Regions from separate parts of the Homo sapiens genome. Here region 1 is linked to region 2. The links come from fine-mapping of genetic effects on gene expression. A gene starts in region 2. The other region holds a variant in brackets. All regions are shown on one strand. Distances are between the middles of the regions. Region 1 overlaps ME3 (malic enzyme 3). Region 2 holds the start of PRSS23 (serine protease 23).

What was found. PIP is the estimated chance that this variant, and not a neighbour inherited with it, causes the effect.
Region 1: its variant is the best candidate, but not a certain one, in a credible set for the expression of PRSS23 in whole blood (INTERVAL, PIP 0.62).

What each region holds. Positions count from the first base shown.
Region 1 is chr11:86,654,358-86,671,476 of GRCh38, forward strand. The region is part of intron 2 of ME3 (malic enzyme 3); the gene reads right to left. Among named protein-coding and RNA genes, the nearest start is that of ME3, 9.7 kb to the right of the region's middle. The variant G/A (reference allele first, on the strand shown) is at 11,059.
Region 2 is chr11:86,797,296-86,808,359 of GRCh38, forward strand. PRSS23 (serine protease 23) reads left to right here and starts at 3,247. Exons shown (of 2, transcript NM_007173.6): 1 at 3,247-3,356; 2 at 10,336-11,064. The coding sequence starts at 10,349.

The DNA of each region.
Region 1 (17,119 bases), 140 kb before region 2:
GCAAACTGAATCCAGCAGCACATCAAAAAGCTTATCCACCATGATCAAGTGGGCTTCACCCCTGGGATGCAAGCCTGGTTCAACATATGCAAATCAATAAACGTAATCCAGCATATAAACAGAACCAGTGACAAAAACCACATGATTATCTCAATAGATGCAGAAAAGGCCTTTGACAAAATTCAACAACCCTTCATGCTGAAAACTCTCAATGAATTAGGTATTGATGGGACATATCTCAAAATAATAAGAGCTGTCTATGACAAACCCACAGCCAATATCATACTGAATGGGCAAAAACTGGAAGCATCCCCTTTGAAAACTGGCACAAGACAGGGATGCCCTCTCTCACCACTCCTATTCAACATAGTGTTGGAAGTTCTGGCCAGGGCAATCAGGCAGGAGAAGGAAATAAAGGTCATTCAATTAGGAAAAGAGGAAGTCAAATTGTCCCTGTTTGCAGATGACATGATTGTATATCTAGAAAACCCCATCGTCTCAGCCCAAAATCTCCTTAAGCTGATAAGCAACTTCAGCAAAGTCTCAGGATACAAAATCAATGTGCAAAAATCACAAGCAGTCTTATACACAAATAACAGACAAACAGAGAGCCAAATCATGAGTGAACTCCCATTCACAATTGCTTCAAAGAGAATAAAATACCTAGGAATCCAACTTACAAGGGATGTGAAAGACCTCTTCAAGGAGAACTACAAACCACTGCTCAATGAAATAAAAGAGGATACAAACAAATGGAAGAAGATTCTATGCTCATGGGCAGGAAGAATCAATATCGTGAAAATGGCCACACTGTCCAAGGTAATTTATAGATTCAATGCTATCCCCATCAAGCTACCAATGACTTTCTTCACAGAATTGGAAAAAACTACTTTAAAGTTCATATGGAACCAAAAAAGAGCCTGCATCGCCAAGTCAATCCTAAGCCAAAAGAACAAAGCTGGAGGCATCACGCTACCTGACTTCAAACTATACTACAAGGCTACAGTAACCAAAACAGCATGGTACTGGTACCAAAAGAGAGATATAGATCAATGGAACAGAACAGAGCCCTCAGAAATAACGCCACGTATCTACAATTATCTGATCTTTGACAAACCTGAGAAAAACAAGCAATGGGGAAAGGATTCCCTATTTAATAAATGGTGCTGGGAAAACTGGCTAGCCATATGTAGAAAGCTGAAACTGGATCGCTTCCTTATACCTTATACAAAAATTAATTCAAGATGGATTAAAGACTTAAACGTTAGACCTAAAACCATAAAAACCCTAGAAGAAAACCTAGGCATTACCATTCAGGACATAGGCATGGGCAAGGACTTCATGTCTAAAACACCAAAAGCAGTGGCAACAAAAGACAAAATTGACAAATGGAATCTAATTAAACTAAAGAGCTTCTGCACAGCAAAAGAAACTACCATCAGAGTGAACAGGCAACCTACAAAATGGGAGAAAATTTTCGCAACCTACTCATCTGACAAAGGGCTAATATCCGGAATCTACAAAGAACTCAAACAAATTTACAAGAAAAAAACAAACAACCCCATCAAAAAGTGGGCCAAGGACATGAACAGACACTTCTCAAAAGAAGACATTTATGCAGCCAAAAGACACATGAAAAAATGCTCACCATCACTGGCCATCAGAGAAATGCAAATCAAAACCACAATGAGATACCATCTCACACCAGTTAGAATGGCAATCATTCAAAAGTCAGGAAACAACAGGTGCTGGAGAGGATGTGGAGAAATAGGAACACTTTTACACTGTTGGTGGGACTGTAAACTAGTTCAACCATTGTGGAAGTCAGTGTGGCGATTCCTCAGGGATCTAGAACTAGAAATACCATTTGACCCAGCCATCCCATTACTGGATATATACCCAAAAGATTATAAATCATGCTGCTATAAAGACACATGCACACATATGTTTATTGTGGCACTATTCACAATAGCAAAGACTTGGAACCAACCCAAATGTCCAACAATGATAGACTGGATTAAGAAAATGTGGCACATATACACCATGGAATGCTATGCAGCCATAAAAATGATGAGTTCATGTCCTTTATAGGGACATAGATCAAACTGGGAACCATCATTCTCAGCAAACCATCGCAAGGACAAAAAACCAAACACTTCATGTTCTCACTCAAAGGTGGGAACTGAACAATGAGAACACATGGACACAGGAAGGGGAACATCACACACCAAGGCCTGTTTTGGGGTGGGGGGAGGGGGGAGAGATAGCATTAGGAGATATACCTAATGTTAAATGATGAGTTAATGGGTGCAGCACACCAACATGGCACATGTATACATATGTAACAAACCTGCACGTTGTGCACATGTACCCTAAAACTTAAAGTATAATAATAAAAAAAATTTACAAGAGAAAAGCAAATAACCCCATCAAAAAGTGGGTAAAGGATATGAACAGACACTTCTCTAAAGAAGACACTAATGCGGCTGATAAACATATGAAAAAAAAAAAGCTCATGATCAGTGGTCATTAGAGCAATGCAAAGTAAAACTACAATGAGGTATCATCCCATGCCAGTTAGAATGGCAATCATTAGAAAGTCAGGAAACAACAGATGCTGGAGAGGATGTGGAGAAATAGGAACGCTTTTATACTGTTGGTGGGAGTGCAAATTAATTTAACCATTGTGGAAGACAGTGTGGGGATTCCTCAAGGATCTAGAATTAGAAATACCGTTTGACCCAGCAATCCCATTACTGGGTATATACTCAAAGGATTATAAATCATTCTGCTATAAAGACACATGCACATGTATGTTTATTGCAGCACTATTCACAATAGCAAAGACTTGGAACCAACCCAAATGCCCATCAATGATAGGCTGGATACAGAAAATGTGGCACATATACACCATGGAATACTATGCAGCCATAAAAAAGAATGAGATTGTGTCCTTTGCAGGGACATGGATGAAGCTGGAAGCCATCATTCTCAGCAGACTAACACAGGAACAGCAAACCAAACACCACATGTTCTCATTCATAAGTGGGAGTTGAACAATGAGAACACATGGACACAAGGAGGGGAACATCATACATTGGGGCCTGTAGGAGGGGGTGTGGGGCAAGGGGAGGGATAGCATTACCAGAAATAGCTAATGTAAATGATGGGTTGATGGGTGCAGGAAACCACCATGGCACGTTTATACCTATGTAATAAACCTGCACATTCTGCACGTGTATCCCAGAACTTCAGTATAATAATAAAAAAAAGATAATGCAGCCCTGCAGTTCACAATTACATGCTTGCTATGGTATTAACTTGTGACCAAACTAGAAGAAAGACTCCTGAGGTATCATTTTCCTTTAGAAAAAAAATAATAACCATCTTTATAATGTTGTTCGTTCACTTATTTATTATCTGTCTTTCTCACTAGATTGTACACTCAGCAATAAGAAGAATCATAGCTGGCAAGCTTATGATGTTATTCTCAATACCTCACAGTGCCTAGAAGATAGCAGGTGCTCAGTAAACATTGGGTGGATGGATGGATGGACAGGGATTCAGGGATGCAAGTAAAGAAGACATGAGTTCTAGGACAGGAAGCAGGATAATGTAAGATGAATAGCTCTTCTTAGGTTGGCAACCCTCAGCATCTTAGGGGTACCATGAAGAACCTCAGGATATGCCTCATATATGAGGCGGTCTTTAAGGAAGAAGAGGCCATGAAAACAGGAGATGGGAGAGATGTAGGCAAAGTTTACCTTCTTCACAATTTTTTTTTTTTGAGACAATCTCATGCTGTCGCCCAGGCTGGAGTGCAGGGCGCGATCTTGGCGTACTGCAACCTCCACCTCCCGAGTTCAAGCATTTGTCCTGCCTCAGCCACCCGAGTAGATAGGATTACAGGCATGCGTCACCAGCCCAGCTAATTTTTGTATTTTTAGTAGAGATGGGGTTTCATCATGTTGTCCAGCCTGGTCTCGAACTCCTGAGGTCAAGTGATCCACCTGCCTCAGCCTCTCAAAATGCTGGGATTATAGGTGTGAGCCACTGCACTCAGCCTGCAATTTTTCCTCTGCTTGCAAATAATATATGTAACACACCTGTAAGAGTAACTGGCACAGTAGGCATTATATGTGATTGTTATTATTTTTAATGTGATTGTGCCAGTAATTTTGAGCCCCAGAGGAGGCAGCTGACTCTGTCCAGTTGACAGTAGTAGATCACAGAACATTGAATAGCTCAGTTAACAAGAGAGTGGCTAAGGATGCTTGGACCCTCCAGTCCTGCAGTCAAAGCCAGTTACCAGAGGCAGGACTGCCCCTCTGCTTGGCAGGCCCTCGCTCCTGGCACCACCTGGCCAGCTGCCCCACTGGCACCCATGCCATCATCTCCCACAAGCATGGCTAGGCTCCTCAGACATGAGGAGAAGCTGCTGCCAGCTCTGGGAGTGTGAGAACAGGGGAAATGTTTCAGCTCTGATGGGTGGATTTAAAAGTCTGTTTCTAAAAATGGCTATTAATAGGTTTTTCTCTACACCAACCATCTCTACTCCTGTTTCATCAACAGCAACTGCATTGCTATTCACTGTCCTTGTGACCTCAAGTGATTTTACCAGTCAAAAAAAATCTACTGCCTAGAATAGACCAAAAATAAAAGAGATAAGAAAGGAGAGTATGACATGAAGGCTAAGCTTTCTGTCAGTTTGTGTAATGTTTTCAAGATCATGTTACTGCAAAGAAATACATAAAATTCAAAAGGAGGGTGGCAACTGGGAACTCACACAGTCATCAGAAACGGACACACAGGAGCGACAGCAGGAGCTACCTCAACAGATGCTTAGGTTTGCAACATACGTTGTTTAATATTAAAGCACTTCATCTGCATTGTTTTAATATTCAAGTTTTTTTATGGAGAGACTCAAAAGCCCTCTGCCTAAGTTGACTGAGGCTGATTCAAGACCCTATTTCAAGATGGCAGGCAAAGAGCTACCTTTCAAAGATGGTAGGTAGAAGAGACAGACATCACTCAAGGAGGGAGTTCCCCTTCACCACTTACTTCCTGGACAGGACATCAACCCCTCAGGGCCTCTGAAAACTTATGTAGACTAGTGATAAAATGCTAGGATATTATCTGCCCAAAGCCTAAATGCTAGTCAAGATGACCTCTTTGTCTTCTGGGGGGATGATCATCTTGTGTTCCAACAGAGGAGAAAAGTTTGGTTCACATTGTGTATGCAAGTATTTATTAACTACCCGTGGCAGTGTGGATGGAGACTATCTTAAAACTTCCTGCCCCGTCTAACTGCTAGCTGGGTGAAGTTGGCCCAGCCATACCCTATTTAGCTGGCTATGAAACAACATTTTAACTTTTATCCTAAATTCCCATGGTAGACATTCTCTTAACTTCCTGTCTCACTATCAGAATCTCATGAGACTGGGAGCGTTATAATGGTGACAGGCAGGAAGGTAGATAGAGACATAGATGATAGCTGAATGGATGGATGGACCAATCAATCGATAGATAGATCCAAATTTGGCTGGATCTATTTTTTTTTTAAGTTAGTTTTTAAACCTTGGTTAGAATATACCAAAATGTTGGGACAAAATCCTGAGACTACTGATGATATCCACTATCTTCAACACCAGCTTCAACTTCCAGAACTACTAGCTCTTTAAATGACACTTGAATTTCTGCTGCTAGTGACATTTTAATTTAAGCTTCTCTCAGGCAAATGTCTAGATTATCCAGGCTTAAGCTCTATCCAGTACTGGGAAATCATCACTAAAGTCTCCACCCAGTCTGCCTGTTCTCTGACTCACTCTTCTCCTGTCAAGTCTGCCAAAATTAGATGTAGCCCATGGCCATCGAAAGTGAGTTTGATCCTTCAGTCTTCCCCTCTCCTTCCGGACTGGATGCTTTCAGGGGGCATGTACCAGATGTAAACTCTATCACATCTGTGACTTCTGCAGCCCACACAGGGCTTCACAATGTGTTAGGAATGCAACAGAAGCTTTAGGATGTGCATTAATCAAGAACTAATTGGACACTTACCATCTGCTTTACATACATTACTTCACTTAATCATTATAGCAACTTGTCAAGTAGATATGTTTTATTGTCATCCCTTTCACAGACAAGGAAATGGAGGTTCAGAGAAATATCCCATATCTAGAGAATGGCAGAGATGGGATTGGAATCTTAGATTGTTCTGAGTGTAATTCCCTCGATTTTTAGCCTTTGAGCTCTGCTGCCTAATACCTGGTCACAGGCTATGCCCCTTGAGGGTGTCACACAAAATTGATTCTAGCTGACTACTTTCCTTTACTCCCCAAATCCTCTAACCTGTTCCAAGTTAGAACAGGTCTAAATTTAATGTCTTTAAAGCAGCCCACGGATGAGAATTGATAATCTCATCACAAAAGATGCTATTCTTTAGAGGAAGTGCACCTGGCACAACATCAGAGCAGAAAACTCTCTTAAAGAAATGTATTTCCAAAATTTGTATGATGAAATAAAAGATTTTTTGTGGCTTTCAAAATTCTCCAGTCCCCATGGAGTGATCTAAAAGAGGGTCAGGTCAAGATTTTCACCATCTTTTCAAAAGAGCTGACAGATGGGGCTGATGTATCATCAGTCTTCACCATATAGTTTCTGATACATCAAGGAGAAGGGAATGTAGAGGCAATTCATGTAACTAATTTTTACTGAGGTTACACTATCAGGAAGGCATTGCATGCTGGCTATGAGATGCCCACGACAGTCTCCTGGATCTGAAGAAAACACATGCACATGATGGCGATACATGTGCTAATAAATGTACACTAAGGCCAAATGTGGAAAGAGCCATGACTACTACAAATGCTACATGCCAAAGAAATGTAGAGGATGAATGAATTACTGCCATGTGGCGTTATCGAGGAGGGCATCATAGCAGAGGTGACCCTGGAGATGCTGAACCCTGAAGCATGCCAAAGTTTTTAAGTGGATCCGGTATGGATGGGGCACCCAGGCATTGTGCAACACAAAAGTGAGGGAAAGAACAAAACCAAAGAGCATGTCAAAGTACTGGAGAGATGTCTTTAATTCTATTTGTAGAATTAGAAATGTCATGATATTATTTAGCTTTCTGAAGATGAGGTCTCTTACAGGGTACATGTCTATTGCTCAATTTCTGCACATAGAGCTACAAAAGCAATGGATGACTATACTCAGAGACAATGCCATTCTGTCTCATTATCTGACCTAAATAGCTTCTCCTCCACCATCTTCATCTACCACCTCTGACACTTCCACAGGTGTCAGCCTTGCCAACACTGCCATTGGAAGTGTTTCTGCACCTCTCTTCTGTGCTTCCATAGCACTTGTATGAATGCACCTCTCGTTACATCTAACCACTGAATTAGAATTGCCCCTTACTAACTGGTCCTCACTTGCACCCCTCTTACGCTATAAGCTCCTTCAAGGCAGAGTATTGTATTGTATTGTATTGTATTGTATTGTATTGTATTGTATTGTATTGTATTGACCACGGTGTCTCCACTGCCTAAAACTAAACAGGAACTCAGAAAATGACTATTGAATAAATTAAACAAACAAATGAGTCTTGGGAGAATTACACAAAGTTAAAGGGAGAGAAAAAGGCATCCAGTGATCTTTAAAGTTCTCTCCAGCTCTAAGAATCTACAATTCTAACAGAGCCAGTGGAAGTGAAAAAAGCTAATCAGAAGTCCACAGCAGGGAACAGGGAATACACTAGTTATTTCTCTGGAAAGGCCACAGCACATCAGACTTCATGCACTAGTCCCAGATAAGAGGGAACCTGCACACTAGAAGTGTTAGTACAGCGTAGGGGATAAGCCCTAAAATCAGGTGGCCTGAGTTCAAGACTCAGTTCTGCCACTATGAGTTGTATGACCTAGGGCAAGTTAGCTAACCTTATGCCTCGGTTTTCTCATCTGTCATATAAGAACAATAACAGTGTCTGAGAGGCTGAGGTGGGAGGATCACTTGAGGCCAGGAGTTCAAGACCAGCCTGGCCAACATAACAAGACCTTGTCTCTACAGAAAATTAATTTTTTTTTTATTTAGCTGTGCAAGGTAGCTTGCCCCTGTAGTCCCAGCTACTTGGGTGGCTGAGGTGGGAGGATCACTTGAGCCCAAGAGTTCAAGGCTGCAGTGAACTATGATTGTGCCACTGTACTCCAGCCTGGGTGACAGAGTAAGACCCTGTCTGTAAAAAAATAAAAATGAAAATAAAATTTAAAACAGGAATAATATAATAACAGTGTCTACCTCAAAATGTTGTGGTATTGTATTAAATGGGTTAACATATATAAACTACTTAGAACAATTCCTAGCACACTGCATGTCCTAAAAACATTAGCTGTTATTACTTGACTTCCCTCCATAACGTTACCAAAGAAAACTCAGTATAATAGGAATCTGCATTGGAATCTTCAACACCTCTTTCAAAACCAGAGAAAGAAGAATGCAGAATGTCTATTTTGACTGGAACCCTAGCTCCACTGTACACTTGGCAATCCCTCTCCTGTTGGGAAGTCCCTGGGCAGCCTCATAACTCAGAAGCTATGCCAATTTATAGAGATGTAGACTCCCTCCTTCAGTTTTCTGAAAGAGCAAAGCAAAATAGAACAAAACAAAGTGATCAACAGAGACTGCCTTCTCCAGAATTCCACACTACAGAGGAAGATGTTTCATGACCAATTAAGTAATGGGCTTCATGTAGCTCACTACCAAAAGATGACACAGAATCAAGACAAAATGCTTTTAAAATATAATAATCTCAAGTTGCTGATCATTCAACTGTATCTTCTAAAATACCTCTAGTTTTCAAGAATCACTTTTAGAAAGCCAATGCAGCTTTGGCTTTCTCTCATTCAAGTTTCTCAAAAGCTGTGGATCTTTCTATCAAAAATCCCTCTCCTCAAATGACAGGTGCATTTTACTCTTTACTGTGTCCTTTTGGTAGGAATTGTGTTTCAACTGGGCTGCATGGCAACCTTTCAGATACAAAATGAATGCATGCTTTTAACCACTGACCTCGGCACACCCAACTGTAGGATATCCATCACATTTTCCTCACAATCATAGAGCATCTTTTGTGCTCTGCATCAGAGAGGCAGTCGGATACCACCCCCAAAGGATTTCCCGATATACTTTCTACACATCAAAGTGAAGGTTTTTGAAACTGACTGTAATCCATGTCTTTGCAAACAAAAGTGCTGCACATTAGTGATCCTTTTGCAATGGCCATAGAAATCAAAAGGCCTTTTTTCCCCCCTCTCACTATAATACTGACATTTGGAAAGAAAAGAGTAGATGATAAAAAGAAACCTTTGGTAGAAATGACAAAAATGTGAAGTAAAATAAGGCCATAAACCTCAGGGTCCACAAAGGCCAACATAAATTGGAAACAGGGAGACTAGAGATGAGCCTGAAAAAGTGTCCAAAAAAACGCCATATATGGAGCCCAGACTTAGACTGACTTAAGATGTCAGTTGGCCCAGGTCTGGGCAAAACACATATTTCTGTATGGGATTTACCCTTCAGCGTTGCTGCTGACGTAATCTAGATATTGCTGTTTACAACTGCTTTTAGAACAGGCAGCAGGCTCCTCTGTTAACATTTTGTTATTACTTTATTGCCTCTAGAAGATAACTAATAATAAAAGCTTGAAAGGAGACGACTTCAGAGGGATCTCCACCTATATGTTACAGATGGGCCAGCTTCCCAAAGTTGGTCTGAGTATTATTTACTTGGCTCTAGAAACAATTCCCAACAGAAACTGTAACCTAAAATTGAAAAGAAAATGGAACATTAAAGGAAAAGTACATAAAGAGGAAATAAATCTCCCATAATCTCACTGACATAACACAATCATATTCACACATTTACTTCCAAGCCCTTTAATATTTATATCTTTTTACAATAACATTCATGAGTATACAGTCTACTTAGTATTTTGCAATTTGAATTAAGCATTCATTAACATAAGCCAATGTTTCTAAAGTCTTAATAATGATTACACAAATGCTTACTTAACACGATATACTTTCCTTGGAGGATGATTCAATTATTTACAACATGCCTATGAGAAAACACTTTCTGAGTATCATCTTCAGGTTCCAGGAACAGCAAATCTCCCTCTTGTGTTCCGGGCACCCCATTCCATATTTCCTTGATTTTCAGACCCTTGGGAGCAGAGGCTCTGAGTGGTTTCCTTTGACTTTTATAGGGGTCCTACAGAACAGTGGAAATACAGAAATTCCGAGCAGGGATGAAGTCTCCAAGGACTCAGAGTGGAGGGTGGGAGTTCCAGTGGAGATGCTGACAGATGCTGGGGTCTCCTAACTCTGGTCTATTCCCTAAACATCTCCTTTTGTGTTTTCCGTGGGCTCAAGAATTGTCCTTGTCCACCTCTGGTTCCAAGGCACCACCTGTGTCTTCTGAATAGGACCTCCTTCTTCCCTGGGCTCTGCTTAAAGCTGGAGATAAACAGTTAATATCTCTGTGCTGTGCTCCTCCAGCACTTCATTCTGTAGTGGGCCTCTGGGCACCCAAAGGGCTGATGTAAGATGTATACACACTCCAGATGGGCATGTCAACACCACAGATGAGGACACTGGGCGATGAGAGTCACCAGGGTGAAAGAAGGGGCCTTGGCAAAAGGCAGGGTGAAGGGAAGAGATGAGAGGAGGGAGCCTTAGCAGATGTCTCTTTGAATGACTCGCTCATTCACTAACTGCTTACGAGCACCAACTAAGTACCTGTGATACATCAATGAACAAACAGACAAAGTCCCTGCCTAAGTGGATCTTAAGTGAACAGACAATAAGCAATAGACATACTAAGTAAGCAGTTAGATAGCATATGAGGAAGTGTCAAATACTATGGGGGAAAGCAGGATGTGTAGGGGGAGCAAGAAGGTTGAAAGGACTGTTCATGAATTCACATGTGTCGGTCAAAGCAGCTATCATTGAGAAAGTGAGAAACTTTGAAAAAGGGAGGGAGTTAACTATGTGGCTATGGAGG[G/A]GTGGTGTGCTCTAGGAAGGAGGATCAGTCAGTGCAAAGTCTGGGTAGGAGCACAACTGACTGAGGAGGCCAATGGGGTTGGGGCAGTGAGTGAGGCAGAGAAGAGTAGCAAGAGATGAAGTTAGAGAGCATCAATATGAAAGGCATCATGAAGACTTGGATGTGGCCAGGTTTTAAGCAAAGAGTGACATGTTGAAACTTAGTTTTAAAAAAAAATCACCCTGGCCATTGTGTTGAGAATAAATGAGAGGCGCTAAAGGGAAAGAGGAGACCAGCCAGGAGGCTGCTGCAGGCATTAAGCAGAGAGATGCTGGAGGCTTCAATCAGTGGTGACCCATGGTGAACAGGGGCTGGATTCCAGATTTAGTCTGAAGACAGGGTAACAGGATTTTCTGGTGGATTCCATAAGGGGTCTGAAAGAAAGAGAGTGGTCAAGGATAGGACCAAGATCTAAGCATCTAGAGGAGAAGACTGAAGACTGAAGAGGACTGGAAATTGGGAGATTAATTCAGAGGTTCTTGCATAATCTAGATATGAGATGGCAAAGGAGTGAAAAAGGCTGATGGTAGTGGGGATATAGAGAAACAGATAAATTTTTAAAGGCTGGGGTAAAATTGACAGAGTGAAACAATGAAAGCTTCATATCAACATTTTGTGGTAGTATCTTCATTTTCCAATTTCCCTTTATTTAATAATGTAGAATTTTTAGCTGAATACATGGGTGCCCAGCCAAAGATTACATTTTCCATGTTCTCTTGCAGCTAAATGTAGCATATGACCAACTTCTGGCCAACTGAATGTAAGTAGAAGTGATATTTATAACTTCCAAGTTGTGCCCTTAAAAGGGATTTCCCCTTCCCAATTGGCTTCTGCGTGGAATTCACAGCAGAGGTAAGACCTGTCATCCTGGACTTTGAAATGTAAAATGCATACTGGATGGCAGAGAAACAAAGTCAAACCACACATCAACTCATGATTGCTTGCCCAGACTTGTTCCTAACAGAGAAATATACTTCTATCTTATTTAAGCCTCTGTATCTGGGGTTCACATTGTTGTCATTGCCTAACCTGTAGCAACTAATAAACATTCTCTGAGCTGTTCTAAAAACAAAGCCCCAATACCAATACTTAGTAATCCTGTGAAGCTAGGACAGTATTCAACAGAGAAAAGTTTGATTTCAACCTGCCTCTGCTAGTTTGTTCCAACATATCTGAACAGTATTTGAGCTTCAATGCAACTGAGTCTTTGTACAAGCTCAAATCTAGAGTAAATTGCCACTTATGGAGCTAATATTTACACAATAATCCACTGTTTCTCTCAACTAGGAGGCACAATTTTACATCATACCTGAAGCAGAGATCTCGAGAAGATATATTATGTAATCTGCCTTCCAGCATCACCAATAAACTTCTAATTATCCATACAACACACTTAACATCTCCTGATTGATGAGCCAAATCCATAGTAACAACCTCCCCTCATCCAAAGAAGACAAGATCAAGTTCTAAGCTAGCAGAGAACAAAATCATATACTTTATTCAAAGGCAAATCCTAGCTGTGTGGAAGTCTAATAAATCATCATTGAATACAGAAGGGATTCAGCTGAAATCTGTGCAGTCTCAGATGTACAGCCAACACTGCAGCACTGTCCTTCAAGCCTTTGCAGGTTTACTGCTCTAAATGTATCAAGTCCACCTGGGAAGGCCATCACCCGTGGTGCCTTGCAGTCTCTGAGGCCCCACTACGTGAAATGTCCTGGTCCATAATCACAGTGACTTGACTAAGCACACTTTCCATTCATTCTTTCCCTGACTATCAAGCTCAAGAGATGAAAAAACTACAGAGAAGCAGGTGAAGGATCAGTGGAATTTCGTGGCAAAAAAAATCACTGCTGGCACACACGGATCAAAGGGGGAAGATTGGTGTGTTCTGGGAAATAATGCACTCCTTCAGTTAAATGCCCTGAAGTCTGGGAAGATGAGAGTCAAGCAGGTGCATTTCCTTCAAATGGGCCATATGTAGGCATTTATTTAGGCAGCAAGAGCATTGGGCTGTGAAGTAGTGACATTCAGATTAATGAAGTTGAGAGGAAAGGGGCCATGACATGATTGAAATCATTTAAAGAACAAATATTTATTGAGCATTTCAAGTCAGACAGAGCTAATGCCATGTGACAAGACAGAGTGTCTGTCCCCATGGTCTAGTGTGGAAGGCAAACCAACCAGCCATTGTAATAGTGTGCTCAGTGCCAGAAGGCAACAGTGTGATAAGACAAATAGGAGGGGACTCAGATCTAGTTTGGCAAGTGGGGAATAGGACGGCTCTTCCTAAAAGACACTATAGGTAAATGGAGGTCAGAAATATGTTGATGGCCCATCAACATGTTGCTACAGTTATAGAATGGGGATGGCATCTTCCTATGAAGGTAACCCTGTGAAGTGGGGCTGATAGTTGCCTATTTAATGTGAGTAAAAGAGGGGTCATATAACCAAAGATTTACTCTGTTGCCAAATCCGTATGGACAATAGAAGAGGTCATTACATAAATTTTAGAAGAAAAGCAGAATATTAGTTTTAAAAAGAAAAATAGAAGCTCATGCGTAGTTAATTTGCATCATTTAGAAAATCTAGACTCCTGGAGGGAGCTTGGAATCATCTAGTATCAATTCTGTCACCATCAGGAATATGCCTAAATCAGTCTATGCAGTTGTGAATTGCCATCATTATTCAGTAGACTCAAATACAGCAGGCAGGCTGCCTCTGTCCACTTCTATGACCAATGATAATCTCTGTGGAGTTGCTTGGCTTCTTCCTTGGCTTCTCTTTTCTTTGGAAAATGAAAATGTTGGATGAGAACAATTATTTTCAAAAACTTTTTGTTACTACAATCCACAGTAAAAATAGTCATTTTACATGCTGACCTGATAAAATATCCATCTTTATTAACTTCAATGCATTTGCTATTTTTCTATTTCATTCTAATACATTTCTTTAAAAAAATTGCTGGTAGATCCACTAAGCTAATTTCATGTCTCATAGTTTGTAACTCATAGTCTGAACAATTCCAGACTAGATCATCTCTGAGGGGCCTTCCTACCCCAATTATGGAAATCATCCTCATTATCACCTAATATTTACCACATGGGGGCTGTCTCCTATGATCCTCAAAGCAGTAGTGTAACACGGGCAGAGGAGCTTATGAGATTCATCACAGATCACATGGCCAGAGCATGATGGAGCTGGTACCAGAACCCAGTGAATGCACAATAGCAGCAATGCTTGCCCTGGTCGGCACCTCTTCTCTCAGATAATTCCACCTCCTGACCACCCTCTGTCATACAGCTGCGACTTAAATGCCACTCCTAATCTGTCGAAATGAGCTGCAAATCTAGTGAACACATTCCAAGAATTTAATGTTAAGCTAGATCTTTCAGGCACTACCCCATGCCAAACACAGGTGGACGAATCTCATTACCTGGCCTGGAAGGGCTCTCCTTCTAACAGAAAAAAATCCACCCACAGACATGAACACTAAGCACAGCATTGAAGACTCTTTCAAAACTGCACTTCCATTTTGCTTCCTCAGTAATAACCTCATTGTTCTATTTAACCTCAGCACTATCTTCCCACCTGGCTGATGCAAAGTACCAAGGCTCAAGCCTTCCATGGAGACTCTCTGAGCACTGGAGGACAACAGAACAGCCAGAGGGTGGCACTCCAGTGGGAAGAGAAGGGCACTCACAGTAACTCCCAGGAAGCACTCCCTCTGTTGCTCCCCTTCTGTCCCCAAGGGTGAGTGAATAGGGGATGCCAACAGGCTGTCAGCCTCCTTCTAGATACCCTTCTTATCCCAGACAAGCATCAGCTGACTTCAGGAATATATAAAAGATGTTGTTTAACATCATGGAAAGGTCAGGTCCTTAGATTTATGGATAACACCTGTATTAGTCTGGTTCTTACACGGCTGTGAAGAAATACCCAAGACTGGGTAATTGATAAGGAAAAGAGGTTTGATTGACTCACAGTTCCACATGGCTGGAAAGGTCTCAAGAAACTTACAATCATGGCGAAGGCACCTCCTCAGAGGGTGGCAGGAGAGAGAATGAGCGCTAGCAGGGGAAATGTGTCAGGCACTTATAAAACCATCAGGTCTCGTGAGAACTCATTCATTATCACGAGAACAGCATGCAGGGGAACCACCCCCGTGATTCAATTACCTCCCACAGGGTTCCTTCCACAACACGTGGGGATTATGGGGATTATAATTCAAGATGAGATTTGTATGGGGACACAGCCAAACCATATCAACAACTTATTTATAGTACTTGGGAGAAAAAAATTTACATCAGAGGCAAACGACAGGGGCAAGAATGATTTCAGGGGACCAAAACCTAGGTTTTAAAAAAAGACTTAAAGATCTTCCTTCATTTTCTTAACTACTTAACAAAGCAATAAATGCTGGTTGGTAACATGCCAGTAATTCTAAGGCAATTATTTTCACAATGATTGGAGCCTGTAGTGGGAATTTATTGTTTTGCTTTCTACATCCATTCCTCCTCCTTCTGATGACACTATCCATATTTACTGTGAGGATCTATATTCCCTTTATTCCAAGCCAGATGGTGTGGGTGGCCCTACCTTAAACCCCATTTTAACTCCAGGGGTGGGCTCTGACCGGCTTTAATTACTGGTGATTGGTTTTGGTTTGGGAATGGGAAGAGAGAATCTAATCAGAGTCAATAAGGCAGAAGGATTCGCTTTCTGAGGCGTCAGAGAAAGGGTATTTTCTCTTCCCCAAGAGCTACCAGAATAAAAGTATCTTTCTATTCCTGGATGATGTGGTGTGAGAACAGGAGATGGAGGACTGTGGCAATAACGAAGTGAGAGACTTCACTGAATAGAGCTTGAGGATGAAACTGACCTTGCAGAGAGGCAGAGTAGAGAGCCAGAGAGAATCTGCATCTTGAGCAATGCCATCTGGGCTTGTGGTTCAAGCCGTGCCTGCAACCCTTCCTCTAGATTCTTTAGATAAAGGAGCCTTTGTGTGCTTAAGCCAGTTTGTATTTTCTAACGCTTACTAGCAAAGTAATTCAAGGTGATAACAAACACCTTGAACACTTTGGAAAGTGGTAGCGTCCAAACAATTTAAGGTTTCTTTTGGAAAGAGCAGGACTCCAATGTGATAGAGGTTGATTTTGATTTTTTTTTCCTTAGCCGCTTCTATTAGTTCTGTAGGAAACAGTCACAATACTTCACATTATATAGTTGTTCCTACTTCTCAAAAACATCTTTTCCATACAGACTGCCTCACCTGAATTTCACAATCCAGAGTCAGAGCAATTATGAAAAAAAAATTTATTTTGCAGTAATTGTTATTCAGCACTTTATACAGTTTAAAATATGATTTCAAGTTCAGTGATTCATTTTATTGTCACAATAACCAAATGAGATAGAAATGGTGGGTCTATCATAATATCTATTTTAGGCTGGAGAAAGTTGGGCCTCAGATAAGTTAAATGAGATATGTGAGTTAATTTGAGGAGGTAGGGGGAGACAGGACTAAATCTGTCCTTGCTTCTATTTCTCTCACCCAATCCTCTGAACCAAAGATACTAAACTCTATTCCCAAAAACAAATACAAAAGAGCTAGCGGTGGGTTGAACTCGACCAAAGCATTGGAGATCTGGATTCCAGTGGCAGAGCCAGAACTAACTAGCTGGTGACCTTGGGCAAGTTTCCTTTGTCTTGTTTTTTGTAAAAGAAGAGGTTTAAACTAGGATCTCTAATGCTCCTGCAAGCTCGAAAATTTCTATAAGTCTAGACTTTTCCATCCTTGCTCTCAAATTAATCTTTTTCTCAGAATAATAATCATAACCTTATTTATTCTCCCACTGGGTACCAGGCACTGTTCTAACGTACCCCCATTTTCTACCCGCATTTTCTCTTTAGATCTCACGACATTCCTAAGACAATTATATCTCTTTTACAGATAAGGAAACCTAGGCTCATGTAGGTTAAATGAACTGCCCAAGACCAATAAAATTAGTAAGCATCAAGGGGA
Region 2 (11,064 bases):
TGAAGACATCTGCTGTTTACATTGGTCATTTGTCTCAGAGGTCAAAATACAGTTCTATCATCGTCCTTATGGCAATCGTGATGACAACCTAACAGCCAGGAAGTAGCCTCTCATTTTACTCTTGGTAGCTCTGAGGAACAACAAAAGCTTGTGGTGCATGTTCAAACCCTGAGCCCCCGTGGGACATCTGTAGTTAAAGAGTCCTTCCTATTAGCTCTTTGGATAGTGGGCGGTAGTCCCTGAGACCAGATGAAGGACTGTTGTGCTCTTGGGCCCTTCTGTGCCTCAGTTTTTCTCTCTGAGTGATGGGAATAATCATCTTGTTCTCCATGACTCTAACTTGAAACATTGCAACTACTAGGAAAAAAATGAGCAATGAATGTCAAAGCTGACTGAGGTGGTACTGGAGGACTACACTCCGAAGCAGAGCCAAGTGTGATAAATATAACAATACCTAATATTTATTAAGGGCTTGTTCCATGTAAGAAACTCTCCTAAGCACACTATGTATATTCATTCAATTCTTAAAAGAACTCTATGAGAAAGTCCTGGTTTTACAGAGGAGGAAACTGAGGTACAGAAAAGTTAAGTGAAAAGCCACACAACTAGTAAGCGTCAGACCTTGGATTGGTACCCCATAGTCAGATGCCACAGGCCACTCTTAATTATGTTGCTGTATGGTCCTCCTATATGCATCTCTTTAATTTTGTGCCTAGCGCAATGTTTTCCATGTAATATGTGCTCAATATATATTTGTTGGATTGAAGTGACTCTAATACAACTTGAGCATGGTTGATAAATCTCTCCCTTCTTCCCTTCCTTCCAGCTGCACCTCCAGTTCCTCTATTAAGATACTTACCTTTTAATGGTGTTTCTTCAATTGGGAGCTACAGACACTTAGAGATCCTCAATTTAATCTTTAAAATTTTTATAATAAAAGATAAACACATTCTGGATCATTGGGATGACCATCTCATGCCAAGTACTGCCTCTTGATTGCAGCACCTGTGTGTACTAGTCTTTGGCAGCAAGAGTTACCACTTCACTTGCTATGCTAATAAGAGAGAAACAGCACAAATACCTAAATAATGTATTAGAGTCAAGAGAAACCCATTGCAATGACATATGGTGTGGGCAAAGGAGATATGGTAGATGGAACGAAGGAAAGAGGTGAGAGAATTGAGTCTGCATTGGGCACCTCACACATCATGAGAGTGGCAGAGCCACAGGGAAGTCAAAGGTACTGACGCCTCAGCTGTCAGTACCATGCAATGCTGATAGTAGTCCAGGAAACGTTACTAATTTCAATTTTATTATTCTGGAAGAAAATTTTTATAAATCTGTTTTGGTTTTATTTGCGAGTTGTTCAAAAGCTGTAACATAAGTTTATATCTGGTTTTGTGTCTGTGTGTGTTTTGAGACAGGGTCTTGGTCTGTCACCCAGGTTGGAGTGCAGTGGTGATCATAGCTCATTGCAACCTCCACCTCCTGGGCTCAAGCCATCCTCCCACCTCAGCCTCCCAAATAGCTGAGACCACAGGCGTGTGCCACCACAACTGGCTAGGTTTTTTGTATTTTTTATAGAGATGGGGTTTTGCCATGTTGCCCAGGCTGGTCTCAAACTCCTAAGTTCAAGCAATCTGCCCACTTTGGTCTTCCAAAGTGCTACGATTACAGGCGTGAGCCACTGAGCCTGGCCTATGTCTCTATATATTAATGTGACATTTTAAAAGAAAACAATTGAAGCTAAGCTAAGAAAAATTTGCCCTTAAAATGGTGGAAAATATCAGTTTCCTTTCTATTTAAGAAATACCAGGCCGGGAGCAGTGACTCACGCGTGTAATACTTGCTGAGAAGGGAGGATACTTGAGCCCAGGAGGTCTACGCTGCAGTGAGCTATGATCCTGCTACTGCACTCCAGAATGAGCTACAGAGGGAGTACTTGTCTTGAAAATAAAATAAAAGAAAAGACCACACAATAATGTGTTCAGGGCTTTCTCATGTAAAAGTAATTGCAAACACCAACGTATTAGGCATATCAGTAACACCTTGGTGTGAAATAGCACTTTAGACCTTCCCTTTCTGAGAGTAGACTTTGATAGGAGAAAGGAAAGCTAAGTAGCTTGATAGAAAGCATGGCTCAGTGCAAAATCTTGTCCTACCATTCAGTAGCTGTGTGATTTTGGGCAAGTCATAAAACCTCTCCAAACCTCCTGTTCCTTATAAAAATTAGTGTAATCTCTGCACCTTCTTCACCACAATGGCCTATATGTAAAGCTCTTGACCGAAAACGCTCAATACACAGTAATCTATACTAAATAGGAAGGCTCTAACACTAGGACCTTAAATGGCAAGGTCTCCAGCCTGGTTAGGAGAGGACTCCCCGCACACCCCCCTACCCTGGCCCCCAACCACCACCACCAAGATAACGACCGCTTGGAGTGATTCAGGGAAGTAGGCCCACTGGACAAGGAGGTGGCTCCACCAGCTGGTGCCCCGATGAAGAACTGAGGCCAGTGGGCTCCCCAGCCACCGCCGCTCAGAAGCTGCCAAGCACCCCCGGTGCTTTGGGCCCCACGCACAGCACTGAGTGCTGTAAGGAAATGCAAAGCATTGGTGGCCCTGCCATGGGAATACAGGTTTCTGTTCTTTGGAGGCACCGGAGAAACTAGGAGTTCGGTCAGCACCTTAAGGCGCTAAAAGTGTACGTGGGGGTGGGGCGCACACAGGTTCTGAACCAATTCTTCAAATTTGCCCAGGGCTCCCCATACACCAGGTGTGGCCCGCGTCCCTAGTTCTAGGCTGTTGGGGGAGGGGTCGCCTTTTGTAGGGGACCTGGTCTTTTTGCGAGCTGGCAGCGTGCTCCCAGCAGCGAAGGCCGTAGTCTCGCTCAGGAGGCCGCGCGCCAGACCCGGGGATGCGCGGTGTTCAAAGGGTGACGGCGCGCGGGTCCCGGGCAGGAGAGCCCGCCAGAGCCGGTGCTGCCTGGCGCCGAGAGGCCCGGACTGGCGACTGCTGCCGCGCCACCGGGGCCCACCTGCGCAGGGACGCTCGGCCTCAGGCCCTCTGGGCTGCTCCACCCTGCTCCGGCCGCAGGCGAGCGGCGAGGGGAGGGGGGCACGGTTTATGTGCAGTGGGGCGGGCGGCGTCCGCGCGGCTTCCCCGAGGCCGGAGGCGGGGCGGGCGGGCCTCGGGTGGCGCGGGGGGCGGACCCGCCAGCTGCCTGCGCTGCTCGCCAGCTTGCTCGCACTCGGCTGTGCGGCGGGGCAGGCATGGGAGCCGCGCGCTCTCTCCCGGCGCCCACACCTGTCTGAGCGGCGCAGCGAGCCGCGGCCCGGGCGGGCTGCTCGGCGCGGGTGAGTGCGGGCACCGACTGGGGCATCCGCCCGGGCGCGGGAGAGGCGAGGCGCCGGGAGGAGCGGGACAAAGGGCCGGGTATGCGCGGGGTAGGGTAACTGCGGGCTGCCGGAGGCACCGCAGGACTTCGCCAGGGCAGTCCTCGGGGTTCCAGGACACGGGCTGGGGGCCTGAAGGAGCTCTGGGGAGACGGCGGGGGCTGCAGGTCATTTGGATTCATGCAGTGTCACCCATGAAACGGATGGGGAAAGAAGATCCTGCTGTCTTGGGTGCAGGATGTTGGTTGGGAAGCAGAGAGAGCCGGCTCTCGGCAAGCTGTCCTTCGGCGGGGGCGATGGCTACACCCCCATGCACCCCCCCAACACACCACCACCACTACTTCTTTTCCTTGAGTTTTGCATATACCGGATTCCATCAAGTTCTGAATATTAAGTTTTAACCCTGGGCATGTGATTGTGAACACACCTAAGCAAGCAAGAGAAGTGCAAAAGTGCAGCAAATACAGGCTGGGAAATAGAATCTTTTCTCCGGAGTGGTTGTCCGTGTGCGTTCCGGGGGTGCTAACCCTAGACACTACAGTCTGAACTAACAACAGTTGTTGTAAGCAAATAGTTCTTCTGCCTGTAGGCATTCATCACGAGTTAACTTTTAAATAAAAGTTTTAAAGTTTTAAAAGGAGCGGGAGAAGACTTGTTCAGATGAAGGAACACCACCACTCCTCTCCAGAATACAAATTAGGTTTGCTTTCCAGCACCTCAGGAGAAAGCAGCTGATAAAAATCCTGTTTGTTTTACTGCCCACTGGGTGACACCAGTAAGAATTAAGCAGCTCAGTGTAGGTATTGGAATAGGGCTTGCTTCTCTCAGCTCCTGAAACTAAATTTGAGGGCTCCCTGTGCACTCCTTAGGAACAGGTAGGCCAGTGCCAGAATCCTCATCACATGGTCATGTGAGAAAGAATTGAATTTATAGATGAGGTCAGCTGTGGTCAAAAGCCCTATGTCAAAGTAGTATCAGGATATTTATTGCATGTTGTTTCAAGATCCTACTTGTGCATGCGAGTATTTGTGACAGGTTTATAACCGTGCCTACCATGAAGTCTGTCAGGAGTGGATTGGAGGTGAAGTGGGGAGAAGGAACTTAGAAAATGCCCCCAGAAGCCACTATGTTTATTTGTGAAAGTGTTTGCACCCCATCTGCGTACGAAAAGGTTGTTTCACTTGCAGTTTTCCTAGTTAAATAAAGTCAAGCGGTAACTTGTCCTTTCCTGTGCCTGAACTGGGAAGGAAGCCTTTTTCCAAGGTGCCTAATATGGATCTCATTTTTGTAACACTGACGACTTATTCAGCTGGATGGTTAACATGGATGCATTTTCTGGTTGTAGCATAAGTGTCCATTAATGCATCTGAGAACATTTTTGTCCCCAGTCTGCAATGGTTAATAGTCTCAGGTTCTCCCAGTAACTCTTCTCATAGATCCCTTAGGATTTCATCCACCAGGCATTATTCATGCCTAACTCCCACAGACTCCAGGGAATTTGTTTCTCATGTTCTCAATATTAGCAGGTTTTTTTGCACTCTGTTCTTGTTCTGCCAGGTTTGTCCCAGGCTCAATTTAGTTTACCTGAAATCCGATAGAGAAGAGGCTAAACTTCATTTGACCACAAGATTGTGTTTAGGGTTGCTTGGACTTGTAAGTGCCTTGTAGTTTCCTGTACAAGACTGTAATTCTTAAACGATTATGTGATTAGGTCTGTTTTGCCTTAATAGGGTCTGTGATTCAGGAAAACGAGAACAAGCCCGACTGCAGAGTATTCACAGAGCTTGGTTCATTCTTAAGCATTTGCTTTAGGATTTAGCATGATTTCACCGTTCCATATCACTGACCACTGATTCCATGGAAGACCCTTTGTCATCTCTCCAAATGGTGTCCAAAACCTGTATCTTTGCAAACTTTCCTGCCGTTTCTTTCTGTCATTACTGTTTATAGCGGCTGCAGGAATTCACAATTTGTACAATAGAGAATACATGACCTAAGGATTAGGTTTTCCCTCCCAGCACTTGTTTGCTATAGGAGTTAAATCATTCTCTCAAACAGTGGCCCTCTTGAGGAGACCTGTGTTGTTGCAGTTTTCAAGACTAAGGTGCCGTGCAGGAGACAGTAGTCACTGCATCCAGTCTCCAAAGAGATTGTTGTTTGCATATCTGTTAATTATGCAAAGTCCCACCACCAAGGGCCTATGAAGTGGCAGCATCCTCAAAAAGTATAAATATTTTCAGACAGTGGCTCATATTGAGTGATGGAGGGTGGACTGTGTAACCTATTTATGAATCAGATACCCAAAGCTGGAAAAGGAATAGTTTCTGTATTACTAAGCATGGTGAAAAAATATTTTCTTACCTTCATTTTCCATTCTTCCCTGCCAGTTAGGTGAAATGATGCACGGAAACACTTGGTTGGAAACCTTAAAAGATAATTTATGTATACCAGGAATCTTTATTCAGCAAAAGTTTATTCCTAGAAATGAAACGTTATAGACCTAAATTTTCTTCATCCAGACTTAGGTAAAAGGGTGAGATTTGAAAATCTTCATTCCATTTTTAAGGTGTGAGTCTTCCAGGCAGCTCTGCAAGGATAAGGTGATTCATTTATAAGGGTGAGAGAGAATTTAAAATCATGTAACTCATTAGTTACCTTTCCAGGTGTGGGATTATGAATGTTTTCATTACATCTGTTTATACCTTAGATGAGTGTTTATGTTTAAGTAAACTTAAACAGGTATAGCACAGGCTTACCCAGGGTTTATACAGATGGTAACAATAATTATTTGTCTTCTAAGGAATTACTCCATTATCATGTGAGTTGAGAAATGAATGTAAATCCACCAACCTAATTTTAAAGCATCACAGTTTTGCATCATTTGTTGTTTTATTAATGCGGATGAGTCAGGGCAGGCTGCGAATGCCTCAGGAAAGACCCTTAATGGACAGGAGGGTTGTTTCCCCCTCAGGCTTTTCTTTGGGGCCTGTCTTAAGAGCATACACACACAGCCATCCCTCCACTCAGTTCTTGAAAGCTGCCTTCTGCTGGAGTCACAATTTGTACAATAGAGAATATATGACCTAAGGATTAGGTTTTCCCTCCCAGCACTTGTTTGCTATAGGAGTTAAATCATTCTCTCAAACAGTGGTCCTGTTGCAGACTGATCAGGGAAATCTTGTCTGCCAGATAGATGAGAAATTAGCATGATTCATTTTCCTTTTCCTTTTCCTTTCCCCCTCCTTTGCCTCCACCCTCCATAATTCCATGAATCAATGGTCCTGAGAAGTAAATGATAGTACAGACACTATAGTCAGCATCGTCCCTGACCTGGACTTACGTGATTCTGGAAAATTATAATATTAGGGAATCCTGGACCTAAAGACCAGAGCTAAAAAGACCAGCTAAAGCAATCATCTGGTTGAGGATGCTATTCAGAAGAATTTCTAAAGCACCCTAAATAAACATTTGGTAAAGGACTAAGCAACTTAAGAAGCTTGTAGCTTTAATACAGACATCAGTTTAAACCCATTTAAGGGCTTGAGAACCCACAGCTGTATCTTCTAATTTCTGATTAGATATTTTAAAAATATCTAAGCCTAATCAGTTTGAAGTAATTTGATGGGCATTAGTTTCTAAAAGTCTGCATTCATTTCTAAATCTGAATTAAACTTTTTTAAATGCAATTTTATAACTTTTAGCGTTACATGGAAGCTTTAAGCAAGATATATAATGCTGTCAGAACAAAGTCTTATCACACAAGTTAGTAAATAGGGTTTAGTAATGTGGAGAACTTGGAAGCAGAGTTGCAAACTAATAGAAATTAGGACTTATTAAGTCTCTGAAAAATTTATTCTTCAAAGTTAAAGCTTCACACTGTCCTGTTGGGTTAGCAGTTTGTTTTTTTCTTATAGATGGCTGGCTTCTCCTTCACTCCTGGCTAAATGAACAGAATTCAAGTTGTAAGAACTCTGAATTAGTAATATTCTATCATGCAGTAGACTCTTTAGCATTCTCTAACAGGATTCTGTGATTCATAACTGATCCCAAAGTTTCTTGAGACATAATCATTCATCATTTTGCCAAAGAATACATTTGATCCTCTATATTGAGAGGTTGGAGTAAGGCTGTGGCTCATGAAAGAGGATATTGTAACTGCCATGTTCTTCATGCACATTGAAAATATTATCTGTAGCTGATGATAATACATACTATAATACTACCTCATCTCCTACTCTTTCTCCCCCAAGAATCGTATTTTAAAAACAAGAACGCTTGGCAGGTTGGACCTCCGCATTCTGTGTTTTCTTTCTTAAGATAAGCTGAAGTAAAACTTGGCTTACCATGTGCTCAATGTAAGTCACATTAACATTCCCCACATTACTCAAAGGGAGGAGAGAATGGTGCGTTGAAGCCCAAGATACAGCCATGTGGGAGATATATGACTCCTCCTAGTCCCTGTCACATTTGGCAGGGATTCTGGTGTGAGTGGGGCATTTAGTCACCTAGACAGCAACTTATATAGAGAAAAGGCTGCTCAAGTCCTCGATAAGCCCAAGGGATGACTCCTTAGCCAGTAGGTGGGAATAATCAGAACCATGCCCCACAGATCTCCTAAAGGGTTGTCATCACCACACCCATTTCACTGCCAAGTTCTCCATTGGAGAGGAGGACTCAGCTAGCATTGGCATCCCCTTCCTAGTCCACTTAAAACCTTTAGTCTTGGCAATATTCCCAACAAGCACATACAAACACGTGTGTGCACATATGCGGGCACCCCATGTTTTCAAGGATTTAAAGAAATAATTAAATGTATTTCCTTCCTACAAAAGGGCTCAGGGACCCTTCCTATTTGGAAAGATGGAGACAAGTAGAATTTCAAGGAATTAGGGAGTCCCAAGGAACTGGCTTTTCCAGGACCTTATTTCTTTCTTTTCCTATCCCTATTCTCCCTGACTGAAGTGGAAGCCAAGAGAAAAAGTCAAGCAAAAAGGTCCCAGAGGTGGGTGGGGCACACACATATGTTAGAAACACAGTGTGGATATTGGGAATGAGAATGGGCATGCTCAGCTATACTACATCAGATCATTGGGATTTTCTACTTTTATATAAAAGGGAGCAAAAGGCACCCAAAGTTGCCAGTAGATCTGTACTTTCAAACAGGAAGAGAATGAGAATAACAAAACAGTTTCTTCCTAACTTCTGCTGTGTTCCCAGAGCCTCTTGAGACCCACCCCTTCCGGGTCCTTGTTTTTGGATGCTTGGTTGTGAATGAGTTACCCTACCTGCTGAGTCAGCTTCTATTGAACCAGAAGAGTCAGAGCCACTGAGAGCCAACTGATGCTTAAACATTTATGAAAGCACTTTCAGTATTCCTCGTTGTTGTTTTTCTTGTGGGATGATTGATCTGGGCATTTAAACATACCTTGCAGTATAAAATCCAAACTTCTTTGTTTAGTACACATAGCACTTCACAATCTAGCTCTTGCCTGCTGCCTCCACCACTTCCTCTACTCCACCCTTGCTGAGCTAAGTGTGATTCCCCAAATTACTCACATGGTTGCATGTTGCTGTGCCCTTGCACAGACTCTTGTTTCCCTTCCCTAAGTATCCCCTTCTCTCTGTCTTATGTTATCAGACTTCTTTTCTACTTCAGCACCCATCTGAAACATCAGGTGATGCCTGGAAAATTTCTAGGCAATTTGTTCATTTAGAGGGTAAATTTAAATTACATAGCTTACTGAATGACCGAAGCATCAAGGAGGGACAGCTCCACGGTGTCACCTTTACTAGGACTCCTATTGCTTCTAAATGGTGGGTACATTTGAAAAGAACGGGTGCATTTGCCAAATAATACATTTGGTCCTCTATATTGAGAGGTTGGAGCGAGGCTGTGGCATACTATTTCTCAAGCATCACTTCTCCTAGAAGGCCTCTCTTGTTCTTACTCCCACAATTGGCCTCAAGCTGTTTCTCTGAGCTACCGCATCATCCATGTACATCATTGTCATTAGCGTCAGCATGCAACATTCATTCACTTTTCCATTAATACAAGCATCCATTTAACAAATCTTTGTCGAGTGCTAGCACAGGCCCAAATTTAAGAGATTTAGTTGGTAATACAGATATAAACAACTGAAAAAGTAACCAATGGTAACAGTTCATAGTGTTATAGCTGATGCAATATTAGAGCTTTAGATATTGACAAAGATCCTGGTAGTGTACAACATAATCCAAAGGAAGAAGGAATATTTTATTAGAAGCCTAGCCACTCTGGAACTCAATATATATAATAGTAAAGGTTGTTGTAAATTCAAAGCAAAAAACAAAACAAAACAAAAAATCTCATACCCTTTCTCGAGTGCACCATCATTTAAAAACCACAGGAGTGGTGGTAATTGTGACACTGTGGAGCTGTCCTTCTTTGATGTCTCAGTCACTCAGTAAGCCATGTAATTTAAATTGACCCTCTGAGTGACCAAGTTGCTCTGAAAATTTTCCAAGTACATGTTACAATGAGAATGAGAGAAGGAGGAGGGAAAGGCGGGGACATCATGAAGGTAGAAGAGGAGGAGGTTTAGAATCAAGCACAAAGAGGGCTCAAAATTACGTGGAAATTGGGGCTGGTCAGTCAGTTAGCCAGGGGACTAATGACTTTATGCCTGCTACTCTGCAGTCTACCATCATTAGGGACATCTTAAACATAGAAAGGAAGGAACACCCAATTTCACTTCAGGCACCCAGCCACAGGAACTTTCCTAAGGTTGAGCCTTTGCGTTGAAAGTGAGACCGTTATCTAAGGATTCCTCTCCACACCCTGATTCCTGAGGAGTGTTCAAAGACTCAGAAACAATGACAGGCCTGCTGCTGAGCTTTGCTGTCTGCAGTAAATGAACGTTCAGCCCTTGCCCTCCTGACCTGCTTGTCTTTGTTTCTACAGAACAGTGCTCGGCATGGCAGGGATTCCAGGGCTCCTCTTCCTTCTCTTCTTTCTGCTCTGTGCTGTTGGGCAAGTGAGCCCTTACAGTGCCCCCTGGAAACCCACTTGGCCTGCATACCGCCTCCCTGTCGTCTTGCCCCAGTCTACCCTCAATTTAGCCAAGCCAGACTTTGGAGCCGAAGCCAAATTAGAAGTATCTTCTTCATGTGGACCCCAGTGTCATAAGGGAACTCCACTGCCCACTTACGAAGAGGCCAAGCAATATCTGTCTTATGAAACGCTCTATGCCAATGGCAGCCGCACAGAGACGCAGGTGGGCATCTACATCCTCAGCAGTAGTGGAGATGGGGCCCAACACCGAGACTCAGGGTCTTCAGGAAAGTCTCGAAGGAAGCGGCAGATTTATGGCTATGACAGCAGGTTCAGCATTTTTGGGAAGGACTTCCTGCTCAACTACCCTTTCTCAACATCAGTGAAGTTATCCACGGGCTGCACCGGCACCCTGGTGGCAGAGAAGCATGTCCTCACAGCTGCCCACTGCATACACGATGGAAAAACCTATGTGAAAGGAACCCAGAAGCTTCGAGTGGGCTTCCTAAAGCCCAAGTTTAAAGATGGTGGTCGAGGGGCCAACGACTCCACTTCAGCCATGCCCGAGCAGATGAAATTTCAGTGGATCCGGGTGAAACGCACCCATGTGCCCAAGGGTTGGATCAAGGGCAATGCCAA